Linked DNA regions of Homo sapiens: region 1 is linked to region 2. The links come from fine-mapping of genetic effects on gene expression. A gene starts in region 2. The other region holds a variant in brackets. All regions are shown on one strand. Distances are from middle to middle. Region 1 overlaps TLCD2 (TLC domain containing 2). Region 2 holds the start of SERPINF2 (serpin family F member 2).

The links.
Region 1: its variant is fine-mapped to the expression of SERPINF2 in whole blood (TOPMed, PIP 0.97).

What each region holds. Positions count from the first base shown.
Region 1 is chr17:1,695,823-1,706,441 of GRCh38, forward strand. TLCD2 (TLC domain containing 2) reads right to left here. Exons shown (of 4, transcript NM_001164407.2): 4 at 6,994-10,619. Among named protein-coding and RNA genes, the nearest start is that of TLCD2, 9.2 kb to the right of the region's middle. The variant GC/G (reference allele first, on the strand shown) is at 4,493.
Region 2 is chr17:1,738,049-1,748,667 of GRCh38, forward strand. It overlaps SERPINF2 (serpin family F member 2), which reads left to right and starts at 4,823. Exons shown (of 10, transcript NM_000934.4): 1 at 4,823-4,860; 2 at 6,944-7,010; 3 at 7,127-7,165; 4 at 7,285-7,347; 5 at 7,660-7,861; 6 at 8,971-9,114; 7 at 9,261-9,464; 8 at 10,550-10,619. The coding sequence starts at 6,948. It overlaps WDR81 (WD repeat domain 81), which reads left to right. Exons shown (of 10, transcript NM_001163809.2): 10 at 1-537.

The DNA of each region.
Region 1 (10,619 bases), 42 kb before region 2:
AAACCCCGTCTCTACTAAAAACACAAAAAATTAGCCGGGCATGGTGGCTGGTGCCTGTAATCCCAACTACTCGGAAGGCTGAGGCAGAAGAATTGCTTGAACCTGGGAGGCGGAGGTTGCCGTGAGCCAAAATAGCGCCATTGCGCTCCAGCCTGGGCAACAAGAGCGAAACTCCGTCTCAAAAAAAAAAAAAAAAAAGAGAATAAAGTCTGGGTGCGGTAGCTCACGCCTGTAATCCCAGCAATTTAGGAGGCCAAGGCGGGCAGATCACTTGAGACCAGTTCAAGACCTGCCTGGCCAATATGGTGAAACCTAGTCTGTACTAAAAATATAAAAAACAGCCGGGCATGGTGGCAGGTGCCTGTAATCCCAGCTACTCGGGAGGCTGAGGCAGGAGAATCGCTTGAACACAGGAGGCAGAGGTTGTAGTGAGCCAAGATCGCACCATTGTGCTCCAGCCTGGGCAACAAGAGCAAAACTCCATCTCAAAAAAACAAACAAAAAAAAGACAGAGAATAAAGAAAAATGAACTGTCCCAGTGATACTTGGAGCCACAGAGTAAATTGGCACATCTTCCTTAAATCATAAAATTGGGCCGGGCGCGGTGGTTCACGCCTGTAATCCCAGCACTTTTGGAGGCCGAGGCGCGCAGATCATGAGGTCAGGAGATCGAGACCATTCTGGTTAACACGGTGAAACCCCGTCTCCACTAAAAATACAAAAAAAGTTAGCCAGGCGTGGGGCCAGGCACGGTGGCTCACGCCTGTAATCCCAGCACTTTGGGAGGCCGAAGCGGGTAGATCACGAGGTCAGGAGATCGAGACCATCCTGGCTAACATGGTGAAACCCCGTCTCTACTAAATGTACAAAAAATTAGCTGGGCGTGGTGGCAGGCGCCTGTAGTCCCAGCTACTCGGGAGGCTGAGACAGGAGAATGGTGTGAATCCGGGAGACGGAGCTTGCAGTGAGCCGAGATCGCACCACTGCCCTCCAGCCTGGGCGACAGAGCGAGACTCCGTCTCAAAAAAAAAAAAAAAGAAAAAAAAATTGACAGTTTCACTTGTCATTTTGTAAAATTTTTTTTAAAAACAAGTATTGTAATTGTATTTGAAATGGTATTTTATTTTATCTTTTTAATTTTTTTTACAGACAGACTCCAGACTCCACTGTTGCCCAGGCTGGAGTGCAGGACACAATCATGACTTACTGTAGCCTCCAACTCCAGGAGGCTGAGTGACCTCCCACCTGAGCCTCCTGAGTAGCTAGGACTGTAGATGTGTACCACTGTGCCTGGCTTTTTTTTTTTTTTTTTTTGAGATGGAGTCTCATTCTGTCTGCCAGACTGGAGTGCAGTGGCACGATCTCGGCTCACTGCAATCTCCGCCTCCTGGGTTCAAGCAATTCTCCTGCCTCAGCCTCCCGAGTAGCTGGGACTACAGGAGCCTGCCATCACGCCCAGCTAATTTTATTTTATTTTATTTTATTTTATTTTATTTTATTTTATTTTATTTTATTTTATTTTTTGTATTTTAGTAGAGACGAGGTTTTACCATGTTGCCCAGGCTGGTCTCAAACTCCTGAGCTCAGGCAGTCCACCCATCTCGGCCTCCCAAAAGTGCTGGGATTATAGGCATGAGCCACCGCACCTGACCACCTGGCTAATATTTTTATTATTTGTAGAGATGGGGCTCTCACTATATTGCCCAGGCTGGTCTCAAATTTCTGGACTCAAGTCATCTTCCCGCCTTGGCCTCCCAAACTGCTGGGATTATAGGCGTGAGCCACCGCAGCCGGACTTATATGAATTTTTAGATTCAACATATTTCAAGGAAATGCTGCTGCAGTGGCCCTAGACTGTTTCCCTCCCCCATCTCCTCCATCTCCCCAGCACCCCACTCCTGTTTGCTGTTGAGGTGGAAATATTTGGATTCCACACAGTCGGGGTTGGGGAAGGAAGGGGAGGAGTTTGAAGAAAACGATGTTTGGACAAGCCGTAAGGAGAGCAAGTGAATAGCTAGGTAGCAGGGCTGGCCTGCGTCAGTGCAGCAGGAATTTGTGGCCCTCCAGTTCTGCAGGCTTCTCTATCCTCTTCTAGCAGTGCCCTGACCTGGGATCTGAGGCAGAGAGAGTTGCCATGCCAGCCTCTCAAGCCCCAGGATTAGCAATGCCAACCGGTGAAGGTTTAGGAGATGAGGGAGTGCTCTTAAGGGCACAGACTGGCAGGCCAGAGTGAGGGGCAAAGCCTCAGCCAAAGAAATTATTTACTATCGGCCGGGCTCAGTGGCTCGAGCCTGTAATCCCAGCACTTTGGGAGGCTAAGTCGGGCGAATCATGAGGTCAGAGGATGGAGACTATCCTGGCTAACATGCTGAAACCCCATCTCCGGCTGGGTGCGGTGGCTCATGCCTGTAATCCTAGCACTTTTGGAGGCCGAGACAGGCAGATCACGAGGTCAGGAGATCGAGACCATCCTGGCTAACACAGTGAAACCCCGTCTCTACTAAAAATACAAAAAATTAGCCGGGTGTGGTGGCTGGCGCCTAGAGTCCCAGATACTCGGGAGGTTGAGGCAGGAGAATGGAACCTGGCAGGCAGAGCCTGCAGTGGGCCAAGATCTCGCCACTGCATTCCAGCCTGGGCTTCAGACTCCATCTCCAAAAAAACAAAAACAAAAACAAAAACAAAAAACAAAGAAACCCCGTCTCTACTAAAAATACAAAAAATTAGCTGGGCATGGTGGCATGTGCCTGTAGTCCCAGCTACTCGGGAGGCTGAGGCAGGAGAATCACTTGAACCCGGGAGGTGGAGGTTGCAGAGAGCCGAGATTATGCCACTGCACTCCAGCCTGGGCAACAGAGTGAGACTCCGTCTCAAAAAAAAAAAAAAGTATATGTTCCACAGTACCAAGCTAAGTGATGTTCATGTCTACAGAGGAAAGCTGAAATGAACCTCTGCCCTCCACAATTACTGCATTCCTGAAAAGTGCAGAAATCAATACTTGACCATAGGAGTCTGCCTTTTTTTTTTGAGACAGAGTCTCGCTCTATCGCCCAGGCTGGAGTGCAGTGGCACCATCTCGGCTCACTGCAAGCTCCGCCTCCTGGGTTCACTCCATTCTCCTGCCTCAGCCTCCTGAGTAGCTGGGACTACAGGCGCCCGCCACCATGCCCGGCTAATTTTTTGTATTTTTATTAGAGACGGGGTTTCACTGTGTTAGCCAGGATGGTCTCGCTCTCCTGACCTCATGATCTGCCAGCCTCGGCCTCCCAAAGTGCTGAGATTACAGGCGTGAGCCACCGTGCCCAGCCTAGAGTCTGCCTTTCAAACTGAAACACCCTGACTTATATATATCACTTCAGAGGCAATTTATCCGACTTGATGGATGTTTAGTTGTCAGCTGACTCCTACCTTTCTACCTTGAAATTTCTCCACTCTGTGGCCTTTCTATAAAGAAAGAGGCAAAATAGTGTATAGGAAAGAGCCCTGAACCAAACCAAAGACCTCGATTCTGATTCGGGCTGTGCTACAGACTAGCTGAGTATGCTTGGATAAGTCACTTAACCTCTCTAGGCTTCAGTTCCTTCAATTCTCTGCAAAATGAAAAGAACAGACTGGATAATCTTTTTTTTTTTTTGAGATGGAGTCTTGTTCTGTTGCCCAGGCTGGAGTGCAGTGGCGCGATCTTGGCTCACTGCAACCTCCACCTCTGGGGTTCAAGCTATTCTCCTGCCTCAGCCTCCCAAGTAGGTGGGACTACAGGGACCTGCCACCACACCTAGCTAATTTTTTTTTTTTTGAGATGGAGTCTCACTCTGTTGTCCAGGCTGGAGTGCAGTGGCACGATCTCAGCTCACTGCAAGTTCCGCCTCCCAGGTTCACGCCATTCCCCTGCCTCAGCTGCAGCTGGGACCACAGGTGCCCACCAACACGCCCGGCTAATTTTTTTGTATTTTTAGTAGAGATGGGGTTTCGCTGTGTTAGCCAGGATGGTCTTGATCTCCTGACCTCGCGATCCGCCCGCCTCGGCCTCCCAAAGTGCTGGGATTACAGGCGTGAGCTACCGCGCCCGGCCTCACCTTAGTTATTTTTGTATTTTTAGTAAAGACAGGATTTCACCATGTTGGCCAGTCTGGTCTCAAACTCCTGGCCTCAAGTGATCCGCCTGCCTCGGCCTCCCAAGGTACTGGGATTACAGGCATGAGCCACCATGCCCCAGCCTGTTTGTTTTTTCATCTGAAAGATGGAATGAGAACAGGTGCAGTGACTCATGCGTGTATCCCAGCACTTTGGGAGGCCAAGGCAAGAGGATCACTTGAGCCCAGGGATTCCAGACCAGCCTGGGCAACATGGTGAGACTCCCTCTCACACCTATAATCTCAGCGCTTTGAGAGGCCAAGGGAGGAGAATTGCTTGAGGCCGGGAGTTGGAGACCAGCCTGGGCAACATGGTAAGACCCCATCTCTGGAAAAATAAAAAAAGATTTTTTAAATTA[GC/G]CAGGCATCGTGGCACACACCTGTGGTCCCAGCTACTCAGGAGGCTGAGGTGGGAGGATCGCTTGAGCCCAGGAGGTCAAGGCTGCAGTGAGCCATGTTTGTGCAACTGCACTCCAACCTGGGTGACAGAGTGAGACCCTGTCTCAATTTAAAAAAAAATGGCTGGGCGCAGTGGCTCATGCCTGTAACCCTACCACTTTGGGAGGCTGAGATGGGTGGATTGCTTGAGCCCAGCAATTTGAGACCAGCCTGGGGAACATGGTGAAACCCTGTCTCTATTTAAAAAAAAAAAATGTATCTGGGTGTAGTGATGCATGTCTGTAATCCCACCTACTCAGGAGGCTAAGGCAGGAGGATCGCCTGAGCCCAGGAGCCAGGAGTTGGAGGCTGCAGTGAGCTACGATTGCACCACTGTACTCCAGCCTGGGTGACAGGGTGAGACCCCGTCTCAAAAAATAAAAATAAAAACAAAAGATGAGGTGAAGCTCTGTTGTGTGAGATTAAATGGGATAATGTGTAAAAGGTGCCTGATGGCCAGGCACGGTGGCTCACGCCTGTAATCTCAGCACTTTGGGAGGCCAAGGCAGGCGGATCACGAGGTCAGGAGTTTGAAACCAGCCTGGCCAACATGGTGAAACCCTGTCTCTACCAAAAATACAAAAAAATTAGCTGGGCGTGGTGGCGGGCGCCTGTAATCCCTGCTACTCAGGAGGCTGAGGCAGGAGAATCTCTTGAAATCGTAAGGCAGAGGTTGCAGTGAGCTGAGATCACGCCACTGCACTCCAGCCTGGGCAGCAAGAGCAAAACTCCGTCTCAAAAATAAATAAATAAAATTAAATAAATAAATAAATAAATAAAAGGTGCCTGACATGGGGAAGGGGCACGACAAATGTTCGGCCGAGGATGCTCCTAAATAAATATTCATTTCAACACAAGAGCTCCTCTCTAAAGAGTAACTTCCCTTACATAGTTTTTTGCAAAATGAGGACTTCTAATTTTCAGCCCAACAAAATCCAGATTTTATGTGATAAAGTTTTGACAGTTCAGTTATGAAGTTTTCTGTTGACTCAGGATTAATTTGGCTACAAGATTCTTTTGGTTTCAACCCTTGGCACTGAAAATCATTCTGCAGGCCCGGCGCAGTGCCTCACGCCTGTAATCCCAGCACTTTGGGAGGTGAGGCAGGTGGATCACCTGAGGTCAGGAGTTCGAGACCAGCCTGGCCAACTTGGTGAAACCCCATCTCTACTAAAAATATAAAAATTAGCAGGGCGTGGTGGCTCACGCCTGTAATCCCAGCACTTTGGGAGGCCGAGGTGGGCGGATCACAAGGTCAGGAGATCGAGACCATGCTGGCTAACACGGTGAAACCCCGTCTCTAGTAAAAATACAAAATATTAGCCGGGCGTGGTGGCGGGCACCTGTAGTCCCAGCTACTCGCGGGGGAGGGGGGCGGGCGGAGGGGAGGCTGAGGCAGGAGAATGGCATGAACCCGGGAGGCGGAGCTTGCAGTGAGCCGAGATCGTGCCGCTGCACTCTAGCCTGGGTGACAGAGCGAGACTCCATCTCAAAAAAAACAAAAAAAAAGAAAGAAAAGAAAATCATTCTAAACTCTGAATCCGGCTGGGTGTGATGGCTCACGCCTGTAATCCCAGCATTTTGGGAGGCCAAGGTGGGCGGATCACTTGAGGTCAGGAGTTCGAGACCAGCCTGGCCAACATGGTGAAACCCCGTCTCTACTAAAAATACAAAAATTAGCCAGGTGTGGTGGTGCACGCCTGTAGTCCCAGCTACTCGGGAGGCTGAGGCATGAGAAACGTATGAACCCAGGAGGTGGAGGCTGCAGCGAGCTGAGATTGAGCCACTGCACTCCAGCCTGGGTGGCAGAGTGAGACTCTGTCTCAGAAAAAAAAAAAAAAAAAAAAAGATGAGGTTTTGCTATGTTACCCAGGCCAGTGTTGAACGCCTGGGCCCAAGCCTCAGCCTCCCAAAGTGCTGGAATTACAGGAATCAACCAACTCGCCTGACACTGGATTTGCTTTTTTTATTTTTTCGAAACAGTCTTGCTCTGTCTCCCAGGCTAGAGTGCAGTGGTGCAATCTCAGCTCCCTGTAACCTCCACCTCCTGAGTTCAAATGATTCTCCTGCCTCAGCCTCCCGAGTAGCTGGCGTTACAGGCGCCTGCCACCACGCCCAGCTAATTTTTATACTTTTAGTAGAGATGAGGGTTCACCATGTTGGCCAGGCTGGTCTCGAACCCCTGACCTCAAGTGATCCACCAGCCTCAGCCTCCCAAAGTGCTGGGATTACAGGCATGAGCCACTGCACCCAGCCAGGAGTTGCTTTTTGATTATAGAGGGTATCAGGACACGTCAGGGTGGAAACTTTCCCAAGGCAAAGCCTCCACAATCTAGCATCGAATTGTAAATCAGGACACCATTGGAGCCAAAAAGTAACTCAAAGTAACCACGCTCATAAGAGATTGATGCAACTAATGCAATTATTTGCATAGCAATTTATTAATTTATAATCAGGATAGTGTTTCAAGGCCATAAAATATCAATGTATCCCATCCAGAAAAGCCCCTTCCCTGTCCTGGAGGACAAAGAAATCATTAGCAAGTAGCTTGGTAGACATGGAGTCCGTCTTGAGGACCATTTCCCTGGGCCACGGTAAAGTCTGGCGAAGCACCACTGTGCTAAGCAGACTCCTACCAAATGGAGCATCTGGCAATCTCTGCTTTTTTTTTTTTTAACCTCTGCATTTTTGAACGTCCTTTTTTTAGGGTCTTAATTGACCATTCTTCTTTGATTCACATCATCTTTATGTTGCCCACACTCCAATTCTCTGCCTACTTACTCAGTTGTAATCACAATCCAGTCCTGCCTTCCTCAAGTTTCACTGGCTCACCATGGTAGCAATTCGTGTGTGGTCCCAAATTCTTCCAAGCGTCCACTACATCCTGCCCCACCTGGGAGCTGACCTCACTCTTCCTGTATGGGCTTGACTAGTTAATCCACAGAAACAGCCATGTTTCCCTAATGGTCAAGTTCTTGGGCAGCCTTCATAGACACTATCTATCTATCTATCTGTCTATTTATTTATTTATTTATTTTTTAAGACGGAGTCTTGCTCTGTCACCCAGGCTGGAGTGCAGTGGCACGATCTTGGCTCACTGCAAGCTCCGCCTCCCGGGTTCATGCCATTCTCCTGCCTCAGCCTCCTGAGTAGCTGGGACTACAGGCGCCCGCCACCACGCCCGGCTAATTTTTTTTATTTTTAGTAGAGATGGGATTTCACCTGCCTCGGTCCCCCAAAGTGCTGGGATTACAGGCGTGAGCCACCACGCCCGGCCTCATAGACACTATCAAGTATTACCAAAAGGGACACTCACTCAAACCATCATGAATGTATACCAGTGGCCAAAGAAAAGGTGTATGACTTAGAATCAATTCATATCAACCTCAACAGATATTTAAGGAATAGATTCCTCACATGAGTTTGTCATATTTCTTTTTCTTTAAAAACTCAAGGCAGACAACATTTTTGTTAATCAAGGCATTCAGTTAAGATGGCAAATTGAGTTTTGCAGATATGACTTTTTTTTTTAATTAAAAATTTTTTTTTGGCCGGGTGTGTTGGCTCACGCATATAATCCCAGTAGTTTGGGAGCCCAAGGTGGGCGGATCACCTGAGGTCAGGAGTTTGAGACCAGCCTGGCCAATATGGTGAAATCCTGTCTCTACTAAAAACACAAAAATTAGCCGAGTGTGGTGGTGGGTACCTGTAATCCCAGCTACTAGGGAGGCTGAGGCAGGAGAATCACTTGAGTCCAGGAGGTGGAGGTTGCAGTGAGCCAAGATTGTGCCACTGCATTCCAGCCTGGGCAGCAAGAATGAAACTGTCTCAAAAAAAAAAAAAAAAAAAGAAGAAAAGAAAGAAAAAAGAAAATTTTTTTTTTTTGTAGAGAGGAGGTCTCAATATGTTGCCCAGACTGGTCTTGAACTCCTGAGCTCAACCACTCCTCCTACCTCGGCCTCCCAAAGTGCTGGGATTACAGGCGTGAGCCACCATGCCCAGCCAGCAAACATGACTTCTAGAAGTACAGACTCTGACAAAATTCTGCATTGTTTCTCTAGCTCACTATCTATACCTTTGCCTCTTGGGTTTTTATCTAATTACATTTAAATGCTCTGCTCTTATTTTCTGCTTGTGTTTAGCTCCTTCCAACTGTGTTTTCCTCAGTCTCGATGTATTTTCATCCTTTGCGCCTGTTTTTATGACTCTATGATGGAGACTTCTCACAATCCCTCTCATTTTTTTTTCACACCTGTATTTTTCCTCCTCTTTTCATTTCTGGGTTCCTGCCTCTTCTTTGTTCTTTGGATATTCAATTTTTTTTTTTGAGACGGAGTCTCACTCTGTCACCCCTGCTGGACTGCAGTGGCACTATCTCGGCTCATTATAACAACCTCGGCCTCCCAGGTTCAAACGATTCTCCTGCCTCAGCCTCCTCAGTAGCCGGGATTACGGGCGCCTGCCACCACGCCCGGCCAATTTTTTGTATTTTTAGTAGAGATGGTGTTTCACCATGTTAGCCAGGATGGTCATCTCCTGACCTCGTGATCCGCCTGCCTCGGCCTCCCAAAATGCTGGGATTACAGGCGTGACCCACCATGCCCAGCCTGGATATTTAAATTGTTCTGTGCTCTCCTCCTTTTTTTTCTCTCTGTGATTCTCTTTGTCAGCTCCTTTGCCTATATTTGCATCTCAGTTGACACCCCTGATTCTGACTTGTCCTTATCTTCCTACCAGTCTCTGCCGACCGGTTACTGTCAGCCTGTCTTTAGGGTTTGCGCTGCAGCTGTTTGTCCTTTGTCTTTCTGCCTGCCTCCAAGTCCCCATATCTCCTGGTCTCTTCTGTCAGTGAATCTTCCCACTGACTGCCTCCTCCGCCTTCTGCTTCTCAGCTCCCCGGACTCGTCCCCGCTCTTCTCTGTTCCCACCTCTCCTCTTGCTCTTCTGATCTCTCTATCTGCCAGTATTTCCTCCATCACTCCTGAGCCTGGGTGTTTCTCCTTGTCACTCACTCTATTTCACTGTCTAGACTCTCTGTGCCTTTCAGCCTTGGGGTCTCTTCTTGTCGGCCTTCATTTCTATTTTTCTGGTCCTTTTTGTTTATAACCCTTTTATCAGTTCTGTGACTTTGGTGTCTCTCAGGATCTATGACAGCCTTTCTCCATATTTCTGCTAGGGCCTGTCTCTTTTGCCCTCCATCCTTCTTTGCCTCTGTCACCTCTATGTGAATAATCCTTCTCTCTTTCTATCTATCACTCAATCTATGTATGTCTGTCTCTGTCATTCTTCGTATCTTTCTGTACCTCCGCTTCTTAGCAAGGTTTTTGTTTTGTTTTGTTTTTTTTTGAAGACAATCTTCCTGTCTCTTGCTTTTGCTCATGTAGCTTTTCTGTGGATGGCTAAGGGTTGCCTCTCTCAGTCCATTGTTTAGTGGAACAGCAGACTTAATCTGCTGGGCACTTCCCGTCACCTCGATGTTCTGGGAAGGAAGGGGTCTTGTTCAACAGAAAAAAACGCAGCAGAAGCAGCAGGGAGGAAGAAGACTTTATGAATGTATCTCAGAAAAGTCCCAGCTCTTCCTTTTTTTTTTTTCTTTAGAGACAAGAGTCTCACTCTGTTTGCCCAGGCTGGAGTGCAGTGGCACGACCTCGGCTCACTGCAACCTCTGCCTCCTGGGTTCAAGCGATTCTCCTGCCTCAGCCTCCTGAGTAGCTGGGATTACAGGCATGCACCACCATGCCCGGCTAATTTTGTATTTTTAGTAGAGACAGGGTTTCACCATGTTGACCAGGCTGGTCTTGAACTCCTGACCTCAGGTGATCCTCCCGCCTCGGCCTCCCAAAGTGCTGGGATTACAGGCGTGAGCTGCTGCGCCCAGCCAGAGGGCCAGCTATTCCTTTATCCTCCTGCAGCCTTCTCTCACACAGTCTACCTCTGCCCTTGTTCTTCCATGAAAGCCTGGGCCTGGGAAAACTCTGTACTGGGCACCTTTCCTTCTGTAATTCTAGACTTCAGTGCCGTCCTAAGAAGACAAACCAGCCCTGTGTT
Region 2 (10,619 bases):
GGTCTCTAGCCCCTCAGCCCCCGCTGGGCACTCTCTGTCCCATCCCTCTAGGACAGGGAAGCTGGCCTGGTCCAGGGCACTGATGGTGCTTGGATTCCAGCCTAAGGAAGGCTGGCCGTGGTCCAGGAGTTAAGGGCTTGGGTCTGGGGTTTAAGTGGCCACCCATCCAGGCCCTGGCCAGTGTGGGACCGGGACGGGAAGGAAGAAGGAGGCTAGGAGCAGGGGGAAAAGGTGCACTTGGCCAGTGGCGCCTGCCAGGAGTGAGTCCATGCGTTGTCTGCCCACCCCTACCACAGTGTTTGTGCCTTCAGCTGAGGGGGCAGCCTCTGGGCCCTGAACCCCTGCTGGGGCTCCACGACCCTGAGAGAAGGGGTGAGAAGAATCATCTCTGCACCTCGGGTCTCTGCCAGAGGAAGACTTAAGCATCCCTGCGACCTCACATTCTAGACAGAGATGAGGTCCAGGGGTTGGCCCCTGCTGCCTTCTCACAATTTGCAATAGATGTAAATAGGACCAATAAATCCTTTGGAAGAGCCATGGGGTGAACTGAGGCTTGTCTTTTTTTTTTTTTTCAATAGAGATGGAGTCTGACTATGTTGCCCAAGCTGGTCTCCAACTCCTGGGCTCAAGCGATCCTCCTGCCTCGGCCTCCCAAAGTGTTGGGATTACAGGCATGAGCCACCACGCCCAGCCTGAGGCTTATCTTGCTGGTGGTGTCAGGGTGGGGAAAGTCGAGACCCAGCAGTTTCCAGGACAGTGAGGGTGGGAAGGGGCCTGATGGAGGGAGTGAGGAGCAGGACAGTGAGGGTAGGAGGCGGCCTGATGCAGGGAGTGAGGCGCAGGACAGTGAGGGTGGGAAGGAGCCTGATGCAGGGAGTGAGGCGCAGGACAGTGAGGGTGGGAAGGAGCCTGATGCAGGGAGTGAGGCGCAGGACAGTGAGGGTGGGAAGGAGCCTGATGCAGGGAGTGAGGCGCAGGACAGTGAGGGTGGGAAGGAGCCTGATGCAGGGAGTGAGGCGCAGGACAGTGAGGGTGGGAAGGAGCCTGATGCAGGGAGTGAGGCGCAGGACAGTGAGGGTGGGAAGGAGCCTGATGCAGGGAGTGAGGCGCAGGACAGTGAGGGTGGGAAGGAGCCTGATGCAGGGAGTGAGGAGCCGGACAGTGAGGGTGGGAGGCGGCCTGATGCAGGGAGTGAGGCGCAGGACAGTGAGGGTGGGAAGGAGCCTGATGCAGGGAGTGAGGCGCAGGACAGTGAGGGTGGGAAGGAGCCTGATGCAGGGAGTGAGGAGCAGGACAGTGAGGGTGGGAAGGAGCCTGATGCAGGGAGTGAGGAGCCGGACAGTGAGGGTGGGAAGGAGCCTGATGCAGGGAGTGAGGAGCAGGACAGTGAGGGTGGGAAGTGGCCTGATGCAGGGAGTGAGGAGCAGGTGTGAGGGCGGGAAGCGGCCTGATGCAGGGAGTGAGGCGCAGGACAGTGAGGGTGGGAAGGAGCCTGATGCAGGGAGTGAGGCGCAGGACAGTGAGGGTGGGAAGGAGCCTGATGCAGGGAGTGAGGCGCAGGACAGTGAGGGTGGGAAGGAGCCTGATGCAGGGAGTGAGGAGCAGGACAGTGAGGGTGGGAAGTGGCCTGATGCAGGGAGTGAGGCGCAGGACAGTGAGGGTGGGAGGCGGCCTGATGCAGGGAGTGAGGCGCAGGACAGTGAGGGTGGGAAGGAGCCTGATGCAGGGAGTGAGGCGCAGGACAGTGAGGGTGGGAAGGGGCCTGATGCAGGGAGTGAGGCGCAGGACAGTGAGGGTGGGAAGGAGCCTGATGCAGGGAGTGAGGAGCCGGACAGTGAGGGTGGGAAGGAGCCTGATGCAGGGAGTGAGGAGCAGGACAGTGAGGGTGGGAGGTGGCCTGATGCAGGGAGTGAGGAGCCGGACAGTGAGGGTGGGAAGGAGCCTGATGCAGGGAGTGAGGCGCAGGACAGTGAGGGTGGGAGGCGGCCTGATGCAGGGAGTGAGGCGCAGGACAGTGAGGGTGGGAAGGAGCCTGATGCAGGGAGTGAGGAGCAGGACAGTGAGGGTGGGAGGCGGCCTGATGCAGGGAGTGAGGCGCAGGACAGTGAGGGTGGGAAGGAGCCTGATGCAGGGAGTGAGGCGCAGGACAGTGAGGGTGGGAAGGAGCCTGATGCAGGGAGTGAGGCACAGGACAGTGAGGGTGGGAAGTGGCCTGATGCAGGGAGTGAGGCGCAGGACAGTGAGGGTGGGAAGGAGCCTGATGCAGGGAGTGAGGAGCCGGACAGTGAGGGTGGGAAGGAGCCTGATGCAGGGAGTGAGGCGCAGGACAGTGAGGGTGGGAAGGGGCCTGATGCAGGGAGTGAGGCGCAGGACAGTGAGGGTGGGAAGGAGCCTGATGCAGGGAGTGAGGAGCAGGACAGTGAGGGTGGGAGGCGGCCTGATGCAGGGAGTGAGGAGCCGGACAGTGAGGGTGGGAAGGAGCCTGATGCAGGGAGTGAGGAGCCGGACAGTGAGGGTGGGAAGGAGCCTGATGCAGGGAGTGAGGCGCAGGACAGTGAGGGTGGGAGGCGGCCTGATGCAGGGAGTGAGGCGCAGGACAGTGAGGGTGGGAAGGAGCCTGATGCAGGGAGTGAGGAGCAGGACAGTCAGGGTGGGAGGCGGCCTGATGCAGGGAGTGAGGCGCAGGACAGTGAGGGTGGGAAGGAGCCTGATGCAGGGAGTGAGGCGCAGGACAGTGAGGGTGGGAAGGAGCCTGATGCAGGGAGTGAGGCGCAGGACAGTGAGGGTGGGAAGTGGCCTGATGCAGGGAGTGAGGCGCAGGACAGTGAGGGTGGGAAGTGGCCTGATGCAGGGAGTGAGGCGCAGGACAGTGAGGGTGGGAAGGGGCCTGATGCAGGGAGTGAGGCGCAGGACAGTGAGGGTGGGAAGGGGCCTGATGCAGGGAGTGAGGAGCCGGACAGTGAGGGTGGGAAGGAGCCTGATGCAGGGAGTGAGGCGCAGGACAGTGAGGGTGGGAAGGGGCCTGATGCAGGGAGTGAGGCGCAGGACAGTGAGGGTGGGAAGGGGCCTGATGCAGGGAGTGAGGAGCCGGACACTGAGGGTGGGAAGGAGCCTGATGCAGGGAGTGAGGCGCAGGACAGTGAGGGTGGGAAGGGGCCTGATGCAGGGAGTGAGGCGCAGGACAGTGAGGGTGGGAAGGGGCCTGATGCAGGGAGTGAGGAGCCGGACAGTGAGGGTGGGAAGGAGCCTGATGCAGGGAGTGAGGCGCAGGACAGTGAAGGTGGGAAGGGGCCTGATGCAGGGAGTGAGGCGCAAGACAGTGAGGGTGGGAAGGAGCCTGATGCAGGGAGTGAGGCGCAGGACAGTGAGGGTGGGAAGGAGCCTGATGCAGGGAGTGAGGAGCAGGACAGTGAAGGTGGGAAGGAGCCTGATGCAGGGAGTGAGGAGCCGGACAGTGAGGGTGGGAAGGAGCCTGATGCAGGGAGTGAGGAGCTGGACAGTGAGGATGGGAAGGAGCCTGATGCAGGGAGTGAGGAGCAGGACAGTGAGGGTGGGAAGTGGCCTGATGCAGGGAGTGAGGCGCAGGACAGTGAGGGTGGGAAGGAGCCTGATGCAGGGAGTGAGGAGCAGGACAGTGAGGGTGGGAGGCGGCCTGATGCAGGGAGTGAGGAGCCGGACAGTGAGGGTGGGAGGCGGCCTGATGCAGGGAGTGAGGAGCAGGACAGTGAGGGTGGGAAGTGGCCCGATGCAGGGAGTGAGGCGCAGGACAGTGAGGGTGGGAAGGAGCCTGATGCAGGGAGTGAGGAGCCGGACAGTGAGGGTGGGAAGGAGCCTGATGCAGGGAGTGAGGAGCCGGACAGTGAGGGTGGGAAGGAGCCTGATGCAGGGAGTGAGGAGCAGGTGTGAGGGCGGGAAGCGGCCTGATGCAGGGAGTGAGGAGCAGGACAGTGAGGGTGGGAAGGGGCCTGATACAGGGAGTGAGGAGCAGGACAGTGAGGGTGGGAAGGAGCCTGATGCAGGGAGTGAGGAGCCGGACAGTGAGGGTGGGAAGCAGCCTGATCTTTGCACGGGCTGCCAGGCTTCTGGTTCATACAGCCCCAGGTCAGTTTCCAGAACCCTCGCTCTTGGGTAGGGGAAAGAGACATTGCTCTGGAGTGGCAGGACGGTGGGAGAAGTTGAGTCCCTCTCATTTCTCCTCCCTCACCCCCTGCCTTCCATCCCAGTCTGAAGGCAGCCAACCTGATCCTGGGCTTGGAAGGTTGGGGGTGGGCTTCCTATCCTGGGCTCTCTGCATAGGCTCTTGTGGCTTCCCCTTTCCTCCCCTCAGGAGCGGGAGGCAGCTCTCTGGGAGAAGAAAGGACATTGGGAGTGAGAATCTGGATGTGCCTCAGCCCAGCTCTGTGTCCTTGGGCAGGTCACATGGCCTCTCTGAGCCTGGCTGAACCAGGGATAATCCACACCTCGTGGGGTCTCTGGAAGGCTTAACACAGTGCTAGGTTCCTGTGCTTTCTGGATCCGCCCTCTTGGCTAGCCAGATCCAGTCTCTTCAACTCTCTCCTCCTGAACTTTCTCTTTCCAGGCTCGGGGGGGGGGACCCAAATATAGGGGGTTCTGCGTGGCTGCCTCAGGGTTAGATGCCCTGGTGGGAAAGGGGCTTCTGGCTTCAAGATCAATGTTTAACTGGATGTGCAAGTCAATATTTACCAGAAGAGAAAGCAATCTGAACAGGGGTTGGCTGAGAGTAAAGGTCCTGGTGGGAGGGGAGGGGTGGGCTGGGCCAGCTGGAGCCTGGGCAGAGAGTGAGGAGCACCCAAGTGGGGCCAGAGGAACGTTGTGTGTGGCAGCAAGGAGCCCGCAGAGGTATGAGGGGAGGGGCTGCTCGGCCTGCTCCTTGGGTAGGAGAGGAGGAGGGAGCTGCCTCCCTGGCTGAGGGGTCTGGGATTTATTCAGGAGGCCTGTCACTCCCCAGCCTCTTCTGGGACTTGAAAAACTGGAGCCTGTTCTTGGCAAGAAGATTCTAATGCCCAGGTCGGAGTCGGGGCCCTGGCCAAGGGCTCTTGTGTGGGATGGGGGTGGGGCCGGGGGGACCAAAGGATCCTCCAGAAGGGTTGGCCCCAAGATGGGGGTGGGCTGGAGGTAGCTGAGACCTGCTCTGACTTATCCTCCTGAGACCAACACCTGCCCTTCCCAGAGCCAGCCTGGAGCAGAGGCCTGTGATGCTCCTAAGTGCAGAGGTGGCTCTGGCCAGAGTCATTCACTGGGCTCTGCTGCTGGGTCAAAAGGCAGCTCTCTGGCTGCCTTGCCACCCATGGTGAGACCTCAGGGCCTCACAGGTATGTCCAGCCTTGTGGGCAAGACCTGACCAGCCTGAGAAAGACGGGTTGGGGCCAGGCGTGGTGGCTCATGCCTGTCATCCCAGCACTTTGGGAGGCTGAGGCAGGTGGATCACCTGAGGTCAGGAGTTCGAGACCAGCCTGACCAACATGGAGAAACCCTGTCTCTACTAAAAATACAAAATTAGCCAGGCATGGTGGCACATGCCTGTAATCCCAGCTACTCGGGAGGCTGAGGCAGGAGAATCGCTTTAACCCAGGAGGTGGAGGTTGCAGTGAGCCGAGATCGTGCCATTGCACTCCAGCCTGCATGATAAGAATGAAACTCCATCTCAAAAAAAAAAAAAAAAAAAAAAAAGACAGGCTAAATGGATGCAGCAGGCTGGGTAGGAGCTCTGTGTTGGAGCTCTGCGGTGGAGGCTTCAGGGCAGGCTTCCCAGAAGAGGTGGCCTTGAGCCAAGCTGACCCCAGCCATCGGGGGAGTGCCAAGCATTGTACTCAGGGTTTACAAAGATGGTCTTATTTATTTTTTTGAGACAGAGTCTTGCTCTGTCGCCCAGGCTGGAGTGCAGTGGCGTGATCTCGGCTCACTGCAACCTCCGCCTCCCGGGTTCAAGCAGTTCTCTGCCTCAGCCTCCCGAGTAGCTGGGATTACAGGGGCCCACCACCACGCCTGGCTAATTTTGTATTTTCAGTAGAGATGGGGTTTTACCATGTTGGCCAGGCTGGTCTTGAACTCCCGACCTCAGGTGATCCACCTGCCCCTGGCCTCCCAAAGTGCTGGGATTACAGGCTTGAGCCACCGTGCCTGGCCACAAAGATGGTCTTTTGCCGGGTGCAGTGGCTCATGCCTGTAATCCCAGTACTTTGGGAGGCCGAGGCAGGAGGATCACCTGAGGTCGGGAGTTTAAGACCAGCCTGACTAACACAGAGAAACCCCGTTTCTACTAAGAAATACAGAATTAGCCAGGCGTGGTGGTGCATGCCTGTAATCCCAGCTATTCGGGAGGCTGAAGCAGGAGAATCGCTTGAACCTGGGAGGTGGAGGTTGCGGTGAGCCGAGATCCTGCCACTGCACTCCAGCCTGGTCAACGAGAGCGAAACTCCGTCTCAAAAAATAAACAACAAAAAATCCCAAAAAGACGGTCTTATTTTGGTCCTCACCATGCATGTGAGAAGAGTGAGGGACTTGTGCCACCGTTTTACAAGGTAAGGCCAAGCCTGGTGGAGTTACGGGAAATGCCGAGGTCCTTTGGCAAGAGGTAGCCTGGATTCAGACACAGATCTGATTCACAGCGCAGGGCCTTGTAGAATGAGAACGTTTTTGATTTGGTATCTCCCTCCTATTCACCAAAACACCCTCAGTGCATGAAATGCATGAAATATGAAACACCAGAAACTAAAAAGGGGGAGAAGCCAGGGCGGATGTCCCAGCTGCAGGAGTGGGAGCCGCTGCTCGTGTGTTTGGGGTCTGTTCTGATTCTGGAGCCTGCTTCTTCCCCTTGGCAATCATGACCCAGGACTTGGCGTTATCTGTGATCGCGTGGGTAGGATTCCCTGGCGGGCGTGGGGATGTGAGATGGGAACAGAGCTTTCTGTCCCTGCCACAGGAACATGGCGCTGCTCTGGGGGCTCCTGGTGCTCAGCTGGTCCTGCCTGCAAGGCCCCTGCTCCGTGGTGAGGCTGGGCTGAAGTCAAGGTGGGGTGGGGTGGAGGGGGAAGAAGAGGGGCGTTGGCATGGAGGGAGGGCTTGGCTCCGAGGGGACCTCCTATCCTCATCCCTTTCTCCACAGTTCTCCCCTGTGAGCGCCATGGAGCCCTTGGGCCGGCAGGTACTGGGGAGTGAGGAGCCTGTGATGGGGGGAAGGTCCCGGGGGTCTCACTGGTGGCTTGGGCAGGGTGGGGGGCCTGTGGGAAGGGTCGGTCTCCATCTGCTTGCTCCTTTCCGCAGCTAACTAGCGGGCCGAACCAGGAGCAGGTGTCCCCACTTACCCTCCTCAAGTTGGGCAACCAGGTACAACCAGGTGGGGCTGGGGAAGAGTGGGCGGGGCTAGAGGGAGGAGGGCCCATCGGCAGGGGTCGGGGGGTGGGGGCGCGTGCTGAGGCTGAGGCTCTGGAGTCCAGAGGCCAGAAGGGAGAGAGGGTGGGGAGGACCGAAGGTGGGCGCCAGGCCCCAGAATGCCAGTGCCCTCCGTCTGACGCTCCCTCTTCCCTGGGGCTGGGACAAGGCCCTGCTGTCCTCAGGCACAGGGGCTGTGACAAGGCCTTCAACACAGAACCTGGAGCTGACCCCTTGACCTCCCTGACCCCTGATCTGTCCCTGCAGGAGCCTGGTGGCCAGACTGCCCTGAAGAGTCCCCCAGGAGTCTGCAGCAGAGACCCCACCCCAGAGCAGACCCACAGGCTGGCCCGGGCCATGATGGCCTTCACTGCCGACCTGTTCTCCCTGGTGGCTCAAACGTCCACCTGCCCCAACCTCATCCTGTCACCCCTGAGTGTGGCCCTGGCGCTGTCTCACCTGGCACTAGGTACCCTGGCACCACTTGTCCAGACCAAGAGAGCTGGGAGGCCAGTAGGAACTCAGTACTCCAATGGTTCTCCGCGGGCGGTTCCTCCACCAGGGTCACGTGGCTGTTTGGTAAAAATGCAGATTCCTAGGCCGGGGCGGTGGCTCACGCCTGTAATCCCAACACTTTGGGAGGCTGAGGCGGGTGGATCACGAGGTCAGGAGTTCAAGACCAGCCTGGCCAACATGGTGAAACTCTCTCTACTAAAAATACAAAAAATTTAGCTGTGCGTGGTGGTGCGCACCTGTAATTCCAGCTACTCAGGAGGCTGAGGCAGAGAACTGTTTGAACCTGGGAGTTGGAGGTTACAGTGAGCCGAGATGGCGCCACTGCACTCCAGCCTGGGTGACAGAGCAAGATTCCGTCTCAAACAACAACAACAACAAATGCAGATTCCTGGGCCCCCACCCATCTGTCTATGTGAATCAGATCTCAGGGACTGGGCCGGGGAATCTGCTTATTTACAAGTCCTCCTGGTGATTTTTTTTTTTTTTTTGAGACAGAGTCTTGCTCTGTCACCCAGGCTAGAGTGCAGTGGTGTGATCTCAGCTCACTGCAACCTCTGTCTCCCAGGTTCAAGCAATTCTCCTGCCTCAGCCTCCCAAATAGCTGGGATCACAGGCACCAGCCACCATGCACAGCTGATTTTTGTATTTTTAGTAGAGACGGGGTTTCACCATGTTGGCCAGGGTGGTCTCGAACTCTCGACCTAAGGTGATCAACCTGCCTCAGCCTCCCAAAGTGCTGGGATTACAGGCGTGAGCCACCGCGCCCGGCCCCTCCTGGTGATTCTTATGCAAGAGTTTGCTAGCTACACTCTTTCCCACTGTGCTGGAGGGTCTCACTGTGGGAAACGGAAGCCCAGAGAGGGAAGGTAACTTGTGGGGGGTGAGGTCACCCAGCCTGTCAGCCACAGGGGTGAGAGCCACGCAGAACAGATCCGTGGCTGTGGAAGGATGGCGTGTGGTCCCGTGGACGTCCTCGTCACGGGTATCCAGGAGGGACTGGAGTGGGCAGTGGGGGTGAGAAAGGACCCGCAGCCGGGCCTCAGCCTGTGCGGTGCCCTCCAGGTGCTCAGAACCACACGTTGCAGAGGCTGCAACAGGTGCTGCACGCAGGCTCAGGGCCCTGCCTCCCCCATCTGCTGAGCCGCCTCTGCCAGGACCTGGGCCCCGGCGCGTTCCGACTGGCTGCCAGGATGTACCTGCAGAAAGGTAGGCGCTGATGGCAGGGAGCTCCCTCAGTCCTGCCCTGGGTGGAGGAGGGTGAGAGCAAGGGGCTGGGCCTCTGGTAGCGAGTAGGGGCGTGTCTGGCTGTGGAGCCTGGAGCCCTGGGAACAGCTTGTGCTGCCTCCGTGCAGGATTTCCCATCAAAGAAGATTTCCTGGAACAATCCGAACAGCTATTTGGGGCAAAGCCCGTGAGCCTGACGGGAAAGCAGGAAGATGACCTGGCAAACATCAACCAATGGGTGAAGGAGGCCACGGAGGGGAAGATTCAGGAATTCCTCTCTGGGCTGCCGGAAGACACCGTGTTGCTTCTCCTCAACGCCATCCACTTCCAGGGTGCGCTCCTCCTCCTCTCAGATCCCCCACCCTGTAGGCTGAGCTGGGACGTGCAGGCCTTTTTGTTTTTTGAGACAAGTCTCGCTCTGTCACCCAGGGTGGAGCGCAGTGGCGCGATCTCGGCTCCCTGCAACCTCCGCCTCCCGGATTGAAGCGATTCTCCTGGCTCAGCCTCCCCAGTAGCTGGGATTACAGGCATCTGCCACCACACCCAGCTAATTTTTGTATTTTAGTAGAGACAGGGTTTCACCATGTTGGCCAGGCTGGCCTTGAACTCCTGACCTCAGGTGATCCACCCACCTCGGCCTCCCAAAGTGCTGGGATTACAGGCGTGAGCCACCGCGCCCGGCCATGCAGGCTTTGTTCTGAGGGTCTCCTTTCTTCCTCAGTCTGGGCCATGAGGCAGGAGGCTGTCTGGGTGTGGTGGGGATGGGTGCCCAGGAGCCAGATGAGTTGTTCTAGAGTGAATACCCTGGGAACAAATGGTCTGAAAAGATCCAGGAGGGGCTGGGCGCGGTGGCTCACGCCTGTAATCCCAACACTTTGGGAGGCCGAGGCGGGCAGATCATGAGGTCAGGAGATGGAGACCATCCTGGCTAACACGGTGAAACCCCCGTCTCTGCTAAAAATACAAAAAAATTAGCTGGGCGTAGTGGCGGGCACCTGTAGTCCCAGCTACTCGGGAGGCTGAGGCAGGAGAATGGCGTGAGCCCGGGAGGCGGTGGAGCTTGCAGTGAGCGGAGGTCGTGCCACTGCACTCCAGCCTGGGCGACAGAGCGAGACTCCGTCTAAAAAAAAAAAAAAAGATCCAGGAGGAGGTTCCTAGGAGAATTGCAGGGGTTGGGGAAAACACAAGCCCAGATTTCAAAAATGCTACGGGAAAGAGACCTTAGATCAATTGGATGCCAGCTAGCATTCCCTGGGGTCTTGGCCTCCACCGCTGTCTCATCCTTGAATGGATTCTGGGTGGGACAGGCAACGGGCTGGGGGTGCAGAGCCCAAGCTGGTCCCCATCGACGTGACCCCTGCCCTCTGCCCCAAGCTGGTCCCCGTCGACGTGACCCCTGCCCTCTGCTGGGTTTCAGGTTTCTGGAGGAACAAGTTTGACCCGAGCCTTACCCAGAGAGACTCCTTCCACCTGGACGAGCAGTTCAC